Regions from separate parts of the Homo sapiens genome. Here region 2 is linked to region 1. A link means that fine-mapping ties the variant in region 1 to the expression of a gene that starts in the linked region. Tissue or cell type: whole blood. Region 1 holds a variant in brackets; the other region holds the start of a gene. All regions are shown on one strand. Distances are between the middles of the regions. Region 1 holds the start of ITPK1-AS1 (ITPK1 antisense RNA 1). Region 2 holds the start of ITPK1 (inositol-tetrakisphosphate 1-kinase).

Region 1 (8,518 bases):
TACAAAAACAATATATACAACTTACTTATGTAACCCAAAGAAATAATCATCACAGGCTTGCCCAAACAGTATCAAAAGTGGATGTTTATCACAATACTATTTATAAAGGTGACAGACCAGAACCATGGTCAGCATCAACCAAGGGAATCAAAGAACTTCAGTTACAATCAGATAATATTATGCAGTCATTTAAAAAGCAAGCCTAAGTAGACATTTAACAAAGGGGGAAGCTCTAAGAGAATGCTAAGTGTGTTTGTGGGAACAGATTACAACAGAACCACAACTTTGTTTACAACTATGTCAAGGCTGGTGGCTCGCGCCTGTAATCCCAACACTTTTAGAAGCCGAGGCGGGCAGATCACTTGAGGTCAGGAGTTCAAGACCACCCTGGCCAACACGGTGAAACCCCATCACTACTAAAAATACAAAAATTAGCCAGGCATGGTGGCGCGTGCCTGTAATCTCAGTTACTCTGGGGTCTGAGACAGGAAAATCGCTTGAACCTGGGAGGCGGAGGTTGCAGCGAGCCAAGATCGAGCCATTGCACTCCAGCCTGGGCGACAGAGCGAGATTCCATCTCAAAAAAAAAACTGCATCAAAGATGTTGGTGCACACCATGGTCCCAGCTACTAAGAAGGCTGAGGTGGGAGGATTGCTTGAGCCCAGGAGTTCAAAGCTGCAGCAAGCTATGATCGCACCACTACACTCCAGCCTGAGTGACAGAGCAAAACCCCATCTCTAAAAAAAGTTTAATTAAAAAAAAAAGTTTTTTTAATGCATCAGTGTGTGTGCCATTTTTATGCTCAAAGGACATGAATAAAGTCACACTTTATTCACATTTTAGTGTGCTGGTTATCCTTCGGCTAGGGAGTAACACATTTTGTTCCCACAAGCTACACAGGAGGCTCTCCAGACCTTCCTGAAAGGCACTTTCAAACCTGCTTCTGGAGGGTCAGAACATCATGCAGGACAGAGGTCAGGCACTAGCAGGAGGCCCTGGTCCCACGGCAGGTCTGTGCTATTTGAAGTCGTAAAGCAGGTCAATGGTGGCCCAGTGTGAGGGGCTGCAGGGGCTGCCAGGCTCACAGTCAAGGCCAGGGCCTGGCCTACCATACACCAAGGCGTTTCATCTTCTCCCCAAGAAGATATACTGGGTGGGCAGGGGTCCTTGTCCCTGATGGACAAAGGAAGGCACTGAGGGCTCAGACAGCAAAAATAACCGAGGGTCCTGAGCGATCCGGCGGAATATTTGGTCGACAGGAAAACTCATCAAGTCCTGCCCTCACCAGGCCCCAAAGCCCTGGCTTAAGGGAGGGCCAGGCCTGGCATTTGTCAAGATTTAACAAGTTCAGTAAATGTGCGCCCCCACCCCACCCCCATCTCCCATCTCTCTCCCACGCCAGACCCTTCTCCAAGCCCCACTCCTTGGCCATTAGCTCAGTCCCAAAGGCATCCTTGCCCATCCCGGCTGCCGATGATCCTGTCAAAACACTGTAAATAACTTATTTCTACTTGGCAGGGCCTGCGGCAAAAATACTGCCTGGGCAAGGAAGGGAGTGAGCCAAGGTCTGCCTCCAAGCCAGGACCCACACCCTCCTGCCCAGGGACCCCTGGTCCCCCACCCACCTGAGATGGCAGAGACCCACAGTGGAGGCCAAACTCCTGCCCAGTGAGACAGGGGTGTGAGCTTCACAAGACCCCTCGAGTCATCTCAGGAGCCAGAAAACCAGTGAGCTTCCCACTCCCCACAGCCCCACACAGCACACTAAGCCCTGTCCCTGACCTCAGGCTACCCACGCTTCTCCTACGAGGGCCTGAGTTTTAGAAGGCCTTCTCACTTGCCCTCCCCTCGTCTCAATCATCCATCTCATCACCATCTGGTAGATGGGCCTCAGAGAGGTTGTGCCACTACCCAGGACTGCACAGCCTTGGAGGGATGGAGCTGGAACTAGGGAGGAGTCACTGGACTCTCACCAGGCAGGCAGTCTTCGGAGCAGAAGAGGCACTGGCTATGCCATCACACCTCTAGAATCCAATCCCAGCTCCACAGCTCACATGCTAGGCTGTGACAAGCCCACCTGTGTGAGCCTCAGTCCTCTCACCTGGCAAGTGGGGCACTAACCCTGGCACTCAGTAGACGAGGCACACACAGGAGTTCTCACTGCTGCTGCCTGGGCTGCTCATAGAAGCCCAGCCCAGACGCCAAACGCACTTTGGAATTTTTACATGCGCATTCTAGAACTCTGAAGCAATCCTACTAGGTGCTTACTGCCCAGACAACAGGGCTGGTGACCTTTAAAAAAAAAAAATTGGCCGGGCATGGTGGCTCACACCTGTAATCCCAGCACTTTGGGAGGCCAAGGTGGGTGGATCACGAGGTCAGGAGATTGAGACCATCCTGGCTAACATGGTGAAACCCTGTCTCTACCAAAAATACAAAAAATTAGCCGGGCGTGGTGGCGGGCACCTGTAGTCCCAGCTACTTGGGAGGCTGAGGCAGAAGAATGGCGTGAACGTGGGAGGCAGAGCTTGCAGTGAGCCGAGGTCGCGCCACTGCACTCCAGCCTGGGCGACAGAGCGAGACTCCATCTCAAAAAATAAAAATTAAAATTTTCGTAGAGATGGGGTCTCACTATGTCGCCCAGGCTGGTCTTGAACTCCAGGCTTCAAGCAATTCTCCTGCCTTGGCCTCTCAAAGTGTTGGGATTACAGACACAGGCCATCATGCCTGGCTGCTGGTGGCCTTCCTGCAGAGAATCCAGGAGCTCTAAATGTTCCCCCAGGACACCTGATCAAAGCCCCCTCTCAGGCCTCTGTACCCCATTCCCACCGGAACCCTGGGAGCCACCCCAGGCGGCTTCTGTAGAAGTGCTGAGTGAGCCCCATGCACCACCGCCAAGTTTCTGGGACACAGCTGCAGGGCCGGGCACCAGCAAGCCGGGATCTCCTTATAGGGTATACTCTAAGGCCATTGCATAAAGCTCAAAAAGAGAAAGACTCAGATTGACAGTCGAGCTGGAAAACAGGCCTGTGAAAGGAGAACTAGACACCAGGGCAATCAGGTCCCTGAAAGGGCTGTCTCTGCCTACCATTTGTGCAGAACATCAGAGAACTTGAGGCAAAGACGGGAGCCACTGTGCTTCCCAGGGGAGTTCTTGAGCTGAGGGTGGATCAAGGGGAAGGAGAAAGACAGAGCCAAGTTACAACTCTGGATTTACACAGCTTTTGGAAAAGTCACGATGAGTGTGCGGGGAATCCCTGGGACCTCCCCTGCCCATAATGAACTAGCACGGGAGGGGGTCATGGGGCTAGGGTCAGGGGTCAGCACTCCCTGGGGGTGATGCCTTCACCCCATCATGGCTAGACCTGGGGAGATCCAGAAAGAAGGAAAACATAAATCAGCCCATGCCCCCAAATGCACCCCAGCCAGAGCAAAATCTGCTCTAACCCCAGAGGACAAGCTGGGACCTCACTCACTCACAGCAGGAGACTCATCCCTGGTCAGCCCTGCTTTAGCCAAACCAAACAGACATAACTTATGCTACAGACATTTCTGGCTTTTTTACTCATGAAAATAAATCAAACAGAAGAGATCCTTTCATTTTGGCTCATCTACCCATCGCATCATTTAACTACACAACACACCTCATTCAGACTCACGCTTCCCTGGGCCACTGAGGATGACAATGATGGTGGTGGAGGTGGCACCAGTAAATAATCACAAACAGCTCCTTCTGAGGACAAACTAGGTAAACAGGTTCTGTGCTGTTCCTTATCTGCATGACCTCACTCCTGGAACTCTATGAGACTGGGTCCATTATTATTTCCATTTTACAGAAGAATAAACTGAGGCTTAGAGGGGGCAAGTAACCTGTCCAGTTCTAAGTCCAGGGCCCAAGTGTGCTGGACACAGCTGACTAGCTGCAGCCCAACCTGTCCCCCATTCTCCCCTTCTTCTTTAGCAACAAAATCCTGAAG[T/C]CACTTCTAGACCATAACCCAATGAAACAGCCTGAGATGTGACTTAGGTCCCCAAAGATTTAGGTCCAGAGACACCCAGGGCAGGACTGTTAGTAACAGCAAACCAGAAATAACCTAGAACTTGAGACTCTGGAGCAGAGAAATGGTTCTAGATGCTGGGACATAGGGATGGTGGGAAGCTGGTGCAGCCACTCTAACAGCAATTTCCAAGGTGTTTAAATGGCACAGGCAAATGCTCAACTGTTCCCCCAAATGCAAGTGGCAAAACTAGGGACACAGAAAAGCCTAACCTGAATGCACATCATATAGAAAAAGGAGCATATTTTATGTAAAAATTGCTTCAATAATTATCTCTGGGTTTTCATTTGTGAGCCTATCTTGACTTCCCAAGATTTCCACAAGTACATATTACTTAATGAGCAAAAGAATAATCTAGAGTTATTTTTAGCAAGCACAGACCCTCGAGGCCTGGCCACATCCTGTGTAGCACAATACCTCAGTCCTTAATTCACTCACCCAGTAGACACAGCGCACATCAGGGCCAGACCACGTGCTCCTCAGAGACCAGCAAGTCCCAGCCTCAGGAGGACACACCAACAGGCAGCTCAGCTTGGTGTGCGTGCGTGTGTGCGCGTGCATGTGTGTGTGTGTATGTGTGTGTGTGTGTGTGTGTAGGGGGCAGAGGCGTCTGCTGGGAAAGCAGGGTAGGTGTCACTGCCAAGGTGACATTTAGCAATTCTTTTTTTTTTTTTTTTTGAGACGGAGTCTTGCTCTGTCACAGGCTAGAGTTCAGTGGCGCGATCTCGGCTCACTGCAAGCTCCGCCTCCCGCGTTCGCGCCATTCTCCTGCCTCAGCCTCCTGAGTAGCTGGGACTACAGGCACCTGCCACCACGCCCAGCTAATTTTTTGTATTTTTAGTAGAGACAGGGTTTCACCGTGTTAGCCAGGATGGTCTCGATCTCCTGACCTCATGATCCACCCGCCTCGGCCTCCCAAAGTGCTGGGATTACAGGTGTGAGCCACTGCACCCACCTGACATTTAGCAGTTCTAAAAGCATGAATAAAAATATGAGAGCAGGGAAGGGGCTGAAGAGGGAGATGCCAGGTCCTTACTCAACTGAAATACTCAGGGACGCTTCCTGGTCTTTGGAACTGACCTGAGGCAATGCATCTCCATTCCTGGCTTTGACTACGATGGTTCTGCGCCCAGCTGGACAAGGAGCACAGTCCAGGGCCCTCAGGTCAAGATGCCTCCTCCTCAGAGTCTCAGCCCTGCACCAGGCCAAACGGGAACCGACTGCTGAGGAATCCAGTGTTTGCATCCGAGTTTCTCCATCTGCACCCAGATTCCCTAGGATCACACTCTGAGTAGCAATGCTATGGATACCTTCACCCCAGAATGCCAGGACAGTCAGCTACTTTAAGAGCAGAATCTTGCTTCTGGCCCTTTCTAAAACCCCCGTTCCATCCCTTCCTATTTCCCCTGTGTACTTCATTCCATCTCTTTTCTTTGCTTTTACGTAAAATGCTTACCTGGCACGCTCCACTGAGGCCACGGAATTCTTGACATTTGACAGCCAAGCAAGGGTGGCAGGTACCAGGGAGATCCAGTCCCAACCCTGCGTGGTGTGGTGAGGAGGGCCTGGGGTTCTGGAAGCCTGCCTGCAAGAAGGCACCCAGGCACCCTGGAGCACAGGGAGCCCCACCTGCCCTGGCAGAGCTCTGTTGTCTTGACATGGGATGTGGGAACTTTTTTTTTTTTTTAAAGGATTTGCTCAAATTGACTCAGTGCATCAAAGGCTGGAGAAAGAATCACCCTAGAACTGAGTGCCACAGGCTTCGGAAGCTGCACAAGACTGCAACACGGTGACAGCTTCTATTTCTAACAGCAAACCTAAAAAGCTCAGGAACCAAAATAAAACGGATAGAAATGAAACCACTCAGAGTATGACGACAGTACTCAAAGCAACTCACGAGCATTTCCCCACGCTGTCTTCCAAAATGTGAAAAATGTGATTTTTTTTTAATGGCCACATTGGAGAACTGCTATGAGCAGACCTCATTTATATAACCCTTCCCAGCACCTCATGTATCATCATTATTAAAAAACACTATGGGGATCATGCTTTCACATAACTTTGTCTTATTTGTTATCTACATAGCCTAAGCAAATAGTAAATGATGGAGAATGAAAATAATTGTCAATGTTTAGGGGGAAAAAAATACCTGCATTTCAAATTTTTTAAAAAAACCATAAAATCTATCTTTTAAAAAAGGAAGGAGTAAGCTGGAATCCACAATTGTTAGAAACCCAAAAGTGATACAGAGGGGAGGCAAAAAAAAAAAAAAAATACTATATTCTCCACACTGAAACAATGTATCTTTCTCAACAGCCCAGTTTCATCTGTAGCTGTATTTTCCCCACTGAAATGCCACCATTAATCATAACAACAGATGAGTAAAAATCAATTAATATTCCTTCAGCATCTCTTAGGTGTCTTCAATCCTGTGCGCTGTCATCCCTTTAAAGAGGAAGGAAAAGATCCACAGCCAGGAAACAGACTCAGAAACTCAAACCCAGGTCTCTGGACCCCACAGGGAAGTGAGGCACAGCCAAGAGCAATCTGTGTCCATTACTGGCCTCAAATGACCACATGGAAACACTGTGTGCAGAGCCAGCCCCCCAAGCCCGTGGCGGTCCTCCTTGGAGATGATGGGGTCTGGGGAGAGGTCAGAGTCAGGCTCACGTGAACTTCAGAAAGCCACTGCCCAGGATATGGGTGGACCGCAAGTCTACCATGGGCTGTCCCAGCTCCAAAGACGTCAGAACCCCACAGCGATTGTTATTCCCAAAGCCCTTTACGCTTGGCTCCACAGCACACGGCAGAGAAAATCGACAGAAGGAAGGATGTTCACAGGTGTCCACCCCTACCTATGCCCCAGTGACCTGGAAATAAAATCCATCAAGAGCACCGGGGTCAGCCAGCTGGGGTACGCTGGAGAGTATGGGTGGCAGAGGGAACCCCGCTGTGGATTGATCATTTGACACTGTGTTCAGCATACCTTTTAAAAAAATGTTGGTACCATGTAAAAATATAACCTAAATAACAAGTACATTTTTAATGCTGAGATGGAGAATTTAGCACCTATAATCCTTCCAGAGATGCACACCACGCAACCACGTGAGTCCCCTCTGGCTCTGAATTCCGAGAGCAGCTACCAACACAGGCCTCCGCTGCCTGCACTCAGCACACCTATCGGAAAGCGCCAGTGCTGGCATGGGCTTTCCCTCCCTGGCGGCTGCTCCTCCTGCACCCCCATGCCCAGGCACTCCGGCCAGAAACAAGGGAGGAGTCTGGGGACTGATCCTCCCCCTCTCACCTCCCACATCTACCCAGGTACCACACCCTGCCATCTGTCTCCTGCTGCCCTCTGTCACTGCAGGAGCCCCTGGAGAGCACATCACCCCTCACTAGGCTGCAGCCACAGCCCCTCTCAGAAAACCCTGCTGTCTGCTTTCCAGTGCAGCCCTGTCTAATCACCCTCCATGTATCCTCCCCATGGCTCTTCCCCCATAGCCTCAGGTTGGAGCACCCAGCTTTCGCCTGCAGAAGCCCCTCCATGCCCCCGACACAGCACCCCATGAACAACTCACCTGGCACCGCTACTCTCTCCAGCCTGGTCTCTCACTAGCCCCCTCAAGCCTGGGGCTGTAGCCTTTCCAAGCCATTGGCAGCCAAAGGACCCCCTTCCCCAGCTGCTGTGTGTGGCCCTGGCCATGCTCCTTGTCTGTAAGGCCATTCTAACACCTCGCCTCCTGCCAGCCCCTACGCCCAGTTTATTCCATGTCAGGAGGTATGGCCTCCATCCCCTGATGGCCCACTCCTCCTTACATGCCCAGCCTTGCGTCCTCACCACTCCCCCACAGCTCAGACAGGCCTGCCCTGCCCCTGGGCTTGGGCATCCCCACGGTTTCCCTGCCAGTGGGCATCCCCACAGTTCCTTCGCCTCCAGAGGCCCAGCACCCAGTTCTGCCTCGGCCCCAGGCACATGGACCTTCCCTTGGGTCTTAGTGTCTCTTTCTCAGACTTGCCTTTTCTTGGTGGTTTGATGGTCACCCACCCAACCTCCTTCCCTGAAAGTCTGGTGCAGGAAGGGGTAAAAACACATATACAAAGGTCACCAGCAAGCCAGCCAGCACCAGCTCTGGAGAAAACACGGACAGAAAGACGTATGCCCACCATTCACTCATTCGCAAGCCGGGAGAACTTACTTACTTCCTTGCCTGCTTGAGAAACAGCCGCCGCACCAGAGACTGGGTTTCATAGTGTCTGAATTCTCAAGGAATGTGGATGGAGGACAGTGAATCTCTAACTGGCTGCTGCACTTCTCACACTTACAGCTTGCTCATTCGCACTTTAAAGTCAAACCTCGAGTCCCCTCATGCCAGCAGTCACCTTCTCCCCGATCTTTTACAGTAACTGGGGAAAGGCAGCCCAGAGAACAGGCCAGGGCAGAGGTCAGGCTGCAAAACATGCT
Region 2 (8,000 bases), 49 kb after region 1:
CATCCCTCATCCCTCCATCCCTCATCCCTCCATCCCTGGGCTGCTGGAAGGATTAAATGAGATGAGGTCCCTGGAAGCACTTCATTAAAAATCAGCAATTATTACAGTAAAGACAGATAAGGTTCACCCAAATTTTATATGGAAAGCTTCACCAAGTCATGTGCCTCTTCCGCCCCCACCTCCTGCAACGTAGGTTCAGCCACAGAAAGAATGGGACAGAGAGGAGGAGAGGAGGAGGCACAGAAAACATGAGCTGAGGAAACTGGGGCCAGCCAGTATTCCCCAGTGAGGCACTGTACAGAACTACAAAATTTAAAATTAAATTAATATCACCCAGTATTTCCAACTAACAGCTTTAATTTCTTCACTCCCCCTCTGAAGCCCCTTCTGAGCATCTAGAAAAAGCCACAAAGGCCAGGAATGCCTGTAATCCCAGCACTCTGGGAGGGCAAGGCAGGCGGATCACCTGAGGTCAGGAGTTCGAGACCAGCCTGGACAACATGGTAAAACTCCATCTCCACTAAAAATACAAAAATTAGCCAGGCGTGGTGGTGCGCACCTGTAATCCCAGCTACTCAGGAGGCTGAGGCAGGAGAATAGCTTGAACCTGGGAGGCGGAGGTTGCAGTGAGCCGAGATTGCGCCACTGCACTCCAGGCTGGGCGACAAAGCGAGACTCCACCTCAAAAAAAAAAAAAAAAAGCCACAAAGAGGGGGTGGTGTGGGAGACCTACAAGGTTGCTCCCAGGCTAGGGAAGGCAGGTGGGAGGGGTACAAGAGAACACAACCAGAGCCGTGTCCCCAGAGAAAGGGGAAGAAACAGGATGGCAACAGGAACAAACAGTACCACTGACAAACAAGTGGATTCAAAGGCCCATCTGCTGGCTAGCAGAGCCCCATCCTATCAGAGTGCACATCTGAAAAGGCTGGCGCCTGTCCCTACCTACGGCAGGTGGGGCACTTCATGGCCCATGAAGTGGCTCTAACCACCCACTGTTGCCATCAACGTGCACTACCCCCCAAACCCTCCCCCCAAGACAAGGATTACACTTGCAGAGGGGCTCAGCTTTGCAAGGAATGTGTCCTGGGGGCTAAATAGCAGCCACCAGACCCCTGGAAAGATAATGAGGGAGACTGCCTTATTGTCGGAGATGCCCAATCAGAAAGGCAATCTCAAGGTAGCCAGGTTGGACCCATTCTAGAAGTTAAAGGAAAAGACCAAGAGTCCGGAACCTGCCCCCTCTCTTGATGGGTTTCCCCATCTGTAAGACAAAGGGGCTAGATGAGATGATGGCCAACATCTCTTCCTGCTCTGAGATCAGATTTTTACAAGGCCGGACATTCAGCTAAACAACCCACCCCGGGCCGGACCATTCGGGTCATTCTTTGCCCAAACATTAAGAGCAGGGCCATTTTTTTTTTTTTTTTTTTTGAGATGGAGTCTCGCTCTGTCACCCAAGCTAGAGTGCAGTGGCACCATCTCGACTTACTGCAACCTCTGCCTCCCGGGTTCAAGTGATTCTCCTGCCTCAGCCTCCTGAGTAGCTGGGACTACAGGCGCCTGCCATCATGCCCGGCTAATTTTTGTATTTTTAGTAGAGATGGGGTTTCACCATGTTAGCCAGGATGGTCTCGATCTCCTGACCTCGTGACCCACCCACCTTGGACTCCCAAAGTGCTGGGATTACAGACAGAAGACACGGCACCCGGCCCAAAGCAGGGCCATTTTCAAATACCTTTAGACTTTTTCATTAGGGAATTCATAGACAATTCATCACCCGTCGTCAGTACAGAAGCCCTGCGCCCCCAGATTCTGAATGTGGAAAACATGATAATGTCCTTTGCACTGTCTCTCAGCCACTAAAGTCTCATTGGCCCTCACACCAAACAAAACAACCTCACGGGGCTCCCTGGTCACTGGCTCAACAGTTGCAGCATTTTGCAGCCAGTATAGAAATGTGGCCACCAGGGGGCACTGCCCTGAAAGTAATAAATAAGAAACGGAAAAACTCTTTGGTGTTTTCTTTTCCTTCTTAGGCTTAAGTGATAAAATATCTAAAGCTTCCCTAGTGAAAACACAAAGTGGGCTTCCTCGGGTTCTAGAATGGCCCTGATGACTTCTGCCTTCTTTGAAGCCAATATTTTGGCCAAAGGAAGGCAACTAGACTTTGAAGACAACAACTCTTTCAGAGAAAGTAATGCTCTACTCCCCAGAACGTTGATAGCATAGCTTGCTCTGAACCTCCCACCCCTTTAAAGGAAGAATGTCTACAAGGTCAAGCCAATCTGCAGGTCCAGCACGAGGACCTAGTTGTGAGTCTCGGCGAAGAATATTTTGCGAGAGCCTCCTAATTACCAAGCAAAACAAGCCAACCCAATGACAAGCCTCAAGCTTGAGTTGCAGACACAAGATGACATAAATACAGACAGCAGTACAAAGGGTGCGAGGTATTCGCTGGGATTTCCCAAGTCTTACATGACTGCAGGGGGAGCTCCGGTGCCTCACATCAGAACTGGACTTCGAGAACATGCCAAAGCAGCTGCTCCAAATTTCTTTAGTGTCTTAGAATGCCCTTCCCACAAGTGAGTGTATCCGCGGTACAACGTTCAAGTACCCTTTTGTAATGTTCCAAGGGTCCTAAGACTCATTTTCAAAGCTCTGGCTTCGAGCTCCTCCTGATTTCTTCATGAATTGCTGGGGCCACTCTGCATGCCCTATTGATCATGAAGAGCCTGTCTTCTAGGGAAACCGGCCTGGGAGAAGGCAGCCAACCCCATCCCCAGACCAAGGGATAAAGAACCAGGCACTATCCTGTACAAGCTGTGCCCCTCTGGCTGCAGGAAGAGCGCCTGCGGGGCTTGCACGGGGCAAAGGAGCAGCAGGCCCTTGGGAAAGGCATGAGGCACACAGAGGTGCTGCCAGGCTCACCTGCGCATGCCAGCTCAGACCAGCCACGGGCCCCCAGGAGCACCAGGGGTTACGGAAACCCAACTGTTCAATTCTCCAAGATGTGTGGGGCCCCCACAGGGACAAAAATGCAAGTAGAGCCCATTTTCAAAAATCAGTCTAACAAGCTGCATCACAAAAGGTTTCCACCTGGAGTTTGCAAAAGGCTTTCAGAGCTAGATTCTCTTAGGCTTGCATTGAGAAAAGGGCTTAACTGCTTCTCAGAGGCAAAGCTACAGTTGTGGAGCAAGGGAAGGCCTACCTGACCCAAGACTCAGTAGTTCTGTAATTTATTAAGAACGTGATCTGTTAAACACCGGAGACTCCGCCAAGGAGCACCAGCATGGTGGGAGCAGGGGCACACAGCCCAGATGGCAGAAGGCCACTCCACACCACGGGCATTTACCCAGCACTTTCTACGCACCAGCCACTCCCTAGCTGCGGGACCCCAAGCTAGGTACCCCGCTCCTCTGCCGATCGGTCCCCGTTCTCAGACAGGTGGCCCAGAATCACCACCCTGGCCAATTTGCAGGGCTGCTGCGAGGCTCTAATGAGACAGCAAATCACCACATACATGCCAAGAATTGCTACTCGCTTCAACTGGGCTTAACCTCATGATATGCAATGACAGCCTCAAGAGCCGAGCACACGCGGGGCACATAGTAGGTGGTCCACAAACGTGGGTGCCCTTTCTTCATGAAAGGGAAGGGGACGAAGGAAGAAAAACACTCCGGTCCAAAAGTACCCTCAAGCCCTTACCCCACAGCGTGGATGCCCCGATTTCCCAGGTCCCTCCGCAACCCTCAGTAGAACTCCCACCGCGCCCTGGGCTGCTGGGGGCCTCCCCAGCCGGGTCACAGTGCACCTGAACGCCCCGGTCCGTGCCACCTCGCCCGCACCGGCCACCGCTTCCCTGGAACGCGGCCGGCGGCCGCCACCGCCACCTGGCTGCTCGGACTCAGTCTCCCCGCGCGCCGCTTCTTCCCGTTTGGCTCCGATCTCCCAAAACAACTAATGAGGCTGCACCGGGCTCGGGCCGGGGGTCACCGGGCTCGGGCCGGGGGTCCCCGGGCGCCGGCGCCGCGTCCCTCCTTACCTGCACAGCTCGGCGAAGGCCTGGAAATTCAGCTTCTTGATTTTCTTCTCGCTCAGCCAGTAGCCAACTCTCTTCCCTTTCAGAAAGGTCTGCATCTTCCTCCTCGGGCGGGGAGCCTGGGTCCGGAGGAAATCGCCCACAGGCCGAGTCTGGCGGCCGGCGCGCGCCGCGAGCGAGTGGGCACCTCCTCCCGGCGGCGGGGACGCGGAACGGGGATCGGAGCTGGGGCGCGCAGTCCTGCCGCGCGGAGCGGAGCGGGGCGGGGCGCGGCGGGCGGCCGGGAGGAGGGAGCGGCGCTCAGCGCGGAAGGCCACTGGCTGGGCCAAGCTGCCACCGCCCACGCCCCCGCCGCCTGCGGGCTCGCCCGCCCGCCCACCGGCTCGCGAGCGCCGCGCCGCCCGGCCTGCCGGCTGAGGCTGGGGCACGGCTGAGCCTGAGTCTGAGTCGGAGCTGGGGCCAGGGCCCGCAGGAGGGGAAGCCGGGCCTCCGCAGACACCGCCCCCGCCCTGCCCGCCCTCCCGCCGCGCGGGCCCGAGCCACACGCCCTCAGGCGGCGGCAGAAGCGCGGCCTCCGAGCCCTTCCTCCCTCCTCCTCCCGCCCGGGTCCTCGCCCTCTGATGTTCCCAGCCGGGCCGTAACCCCTGGGCGCGCTTGGACCCCGGCGGGGCGCACGCGGCCACTCGGCCCGGCCAGAGATCCTCACCCGCCGCCGCCGCCGCCACTTCCTCCTCGGCCTGGTCCTCGCGCGCTGCCCGCCGAGAAGGGCGGCGGCGAGCGCCCGCGCACTCGCCGCCCCTGCCCGCCGCCGCCCCGCGCTGGCCCGGCCGCCCCGCTTGAGCCCGCGGCGGCGAGGAAGCGGCGGGGCGGCCGCCAGGGGGCAGCGCCGCCCGCCGCCTCTTAAAGGCGCCGCGCCGGCCCTCGCGGCTACCCGGCGCCTGTTTGTGTCCCCGGGTGTGGGGTGCGGGGCGCGGGGCTTCCTGGGGGCGGCCGTGGCCCGGCGGTCTTACTTCGGGAAGGGAGCCGCGGTGTGGGCGTGTGTTCCGCCTGGCCTTTGGGGGCGACCGAGCCGCTGAGTTTCGGAAACGTCTCTGTACCCCCAGCAGGGTTCAGCACCCCCAAGGCAATCCATTGCAACTGCGCCCGGAAGGAGACCTTCCAGGAATTCGCCCCTTCCCTCGAGGAAGCGGACCCTGGCCCAGGATGGGGCCCCCCGGGGGGGTGGGTGAACACCCAGGGGCCCTCCTAGGCGTAGGACGTGACCACCAGTTCTCACTCTAGGTCCCCTTCACTGAGGGGGGAAGGGGCGGGGACTGGAGGCGACAGCGACAACAGCGGCCGTCCCCGGAGACCCCTTCCTCAGGGGTGCGGGTCAGCGTCGGCGCCGGGGAGTCACTAAACCCCGCCTACCCTGCCCTGCCCTATGGGGCAGCCAGGGAGCTTTCCTGCCTCAATGGTCTCTGGGTTTGGGAAGGAGAAATGGACTTCTCTCCCCAGGCCCAGGCAGGAAAAATGGATTCCCGTGGAGGGAAGGCTCAGAAAAGTTTGAGAGGAGACACTGAAGCTGGCCTTGGAAATCAAGGAGATTTTGATGGAGCAGGGAAGGGGGATGAGCTTGAATTGAGGCTGGGAGACAAGAAAAAGCCAAGTTGCCAGCGGGTGACCAAGACTTCCCTTGATCACACTTGAGTCAGGCTCCTCCGAGACCTCTTTCTGACCAGGCCCCGACCTTGGGCTCTGTCCTTGGCCTTCTTAGTCCAGTTTTAGCCAGAATCCTGCTGTCAAGAATATCTCCACGCTTGGTATGTGATCACCCTGGCCGGCCTACATTAAGAAACTCCGTCTCAAAAAAAAAAGAAAGACAAGGATCTCTCTATGCTGCCCAGGCTGGAGTGCAATGGTGCAGTCATAGCTCACTGCAGCCTCGAACACCCCTGCTAAACTGATCCTCCCACCTCAGCCTCCCGAGCAGCTGGGACTACACTGTGTTGCCCAGGCAGGTCTCGAACTCCTGGCCTCAAGCTGTCCTCCCACCTGGGCCTCCCAAAGTGCTGGGATTGTAGACCTGAGCCACCCCGCCTGGCTTCCCTGCCATCTTTAACGAGAATCTGATTAGTTTTTTTCTTTAACAAGGTAGAGAAAACGGATGGATGGAGAGTGGAAAAGACGATGGGTGGGAAACAGGACTCCTCCAGGGGGCCAGCTAGGGACGGGCACTGCATGCCTTAGGCAAGGGTACTGCGAGTTTCATAGGCCATGGGAGCCTAGAAGGTAAGTGGTGACAGGTTCCAGGGTCAGCTCTGTGGCTTAGAATGCCTGGCTCCTGGGGGGGACATGGAAAGCTGGATAAAGGGAAGATCATAGCAAGGACCCCTAGGGCCGAGGCACAAGATGGATAAAAGAAGGCTAAGGGAGGCTGCGCATGGTGGCTCATGCCTGTAATCCCAGCACTTTGGGAGGCCGAGGTGGGCACATCATGAGGTCAGGAGATTGAGATCATCCTGGCTAACACGGTGAAACCCTGTCTCTACTAAAAATACAAAAAATTAGCCGGGCGTGGTGGCGGGCGCCTGTAGTCCCAGCTACTTGGGAGGCTAAGGCAGGAGAATGGCGTGAACCTGGGAGGCAGAGCTGGCAGTGAGCTGAGATCGTGCCACTGCACTCTAGCCTGGGCAACAGAGTGAGACTCCGTCTCAAAAAAAAAAAAAAAAAAAGAAGGCGGCTAAGGGAGTAAAAACGAAGGGGATGGGGGCAGCAACTATAAACTTGATACTTGAAGTCAGCAGTAGGGATTACAGGCATCGACTTTAAATGTCCTGCTGTTCTTAGGAACTGAAAGACCAGTTGAGGCTGGGTGGTTCAGGAGGGTTCCTGGAATTCCCTCACTCCTTTGGCAAACACACGAGAGCCCAGTGTGTGGCAGAGGAAAATGGACACAAGCCATTGATTAGAAACACGGGATGAGGCTGGGCGCTGGGAGGCCGAAGCAGGCGGATCACCTGAGATCAGGAGTTCGAGGCCAGCCTGACCAACATGGAGAAACCCCATCTCTACTAAAAATACAAAATTAGGTGGGCATGGTGGCGCATGCCTGTAATCCCAGCTACTTGGGAGGCTGAGGCAGGAGAATCGCTTGAACCAGAGAGGCGGAGGTTGCGGTCAGCCGAGGTCGCGCCATTGCACTCCAGCCTGGGCGGCAAGGGCAAAACTCCATCTCAAAAACAAAAAAAAGAAAGAAAAAAGGAAACGTGGGGTGAGAGCTGAGAGGGAAATGGGAAGGAAGATGGCAATCTGTCCCATTTTGCTGCATGACTGGGGAGACTGTGGCATAGGATCTTGAAGGATGAGTAGGAAGGAGTTCAGTGGGGGAAGGAGGCAACATTCCAGGCAAAGGCGAAAACAGGTGCGAAGTTTCAGAGGGTGAAAAGGGAAGAACACCGTAAATAAGGGCACGGTAAGATGGAGATGGGCAGGAAGATGAGGCCTGAGAAATGGACCAGGGGAACTTGGGAGGGATGCTGAAGACAGTGTGTGTGTGGTCACTTCTGAACAGGAGCTGGATGAAGTTCTTTTTTTTTCTTAATATTATTTTATTTTATCTTATTTTATTATTTTATTTTATTTTATTTTTTGAAATGGAGTCTTGTTGTGTCATCCAGGCTGGAGTCCAGTGCACCTCCCGGGTTCAAGCGATTCTCCTGCCTTGACCTCCCGGTAGCTGGGACTATTGGCACGTGTCACCACGCCCAGCTAATTTTTGTATTTTTTTTTTTTTTTGAGACGGAGTCTTGCTTTGTTGCCCAGACTGGAGTGCAGTGGCGCAATCTCGGCTCACTGCAAGCTCCACCTCCCGGGTTCATGCCATTCTCCTGCCTCAGCCTCCTGAGTAGCTGGGACTACAGGCGCCCGCCACCACGCCCGGCTAATTTTTTGTATTTTTAGTAGAGATGGGGTTTCACCG

The links.
Region 2: ITPK1 starts here. The variant in region 1 is fine-mapped to the expression of ITPK1 in whole blood (TOPMed, PIP 0.98).

Annotation. Positions count from the first base shown.
Region 1 is chr14:93,061,691-93,070,208 of GRCh38, forward strand. The region is part of intron 3 of ITPK1 (inositol-tetrakisphosphate 1-kinase); the gene reads right to left. ITPK1-AS1 (ITPK1 antisense RNA 1) reads left to right here and starts at 5,762. Exons shown (of 1, transcript NR_002808.2): 1 at 5,762-8,518. The variant T/C (reference allele first, on the strand shown) is at 3,979.
Region 2 is chr14:93,111,027-93,119,026 of GRCh38, forward strand. ITPK1 (inositol-tetrakisphosphate 1-kinase) reads right to left here and starts at 4,899. Exons shown (of 11, transcript NM_014216.6): 1 at 4,746-4,899; 2 at 4,043-4,279. The coding sequence starts at 4,137.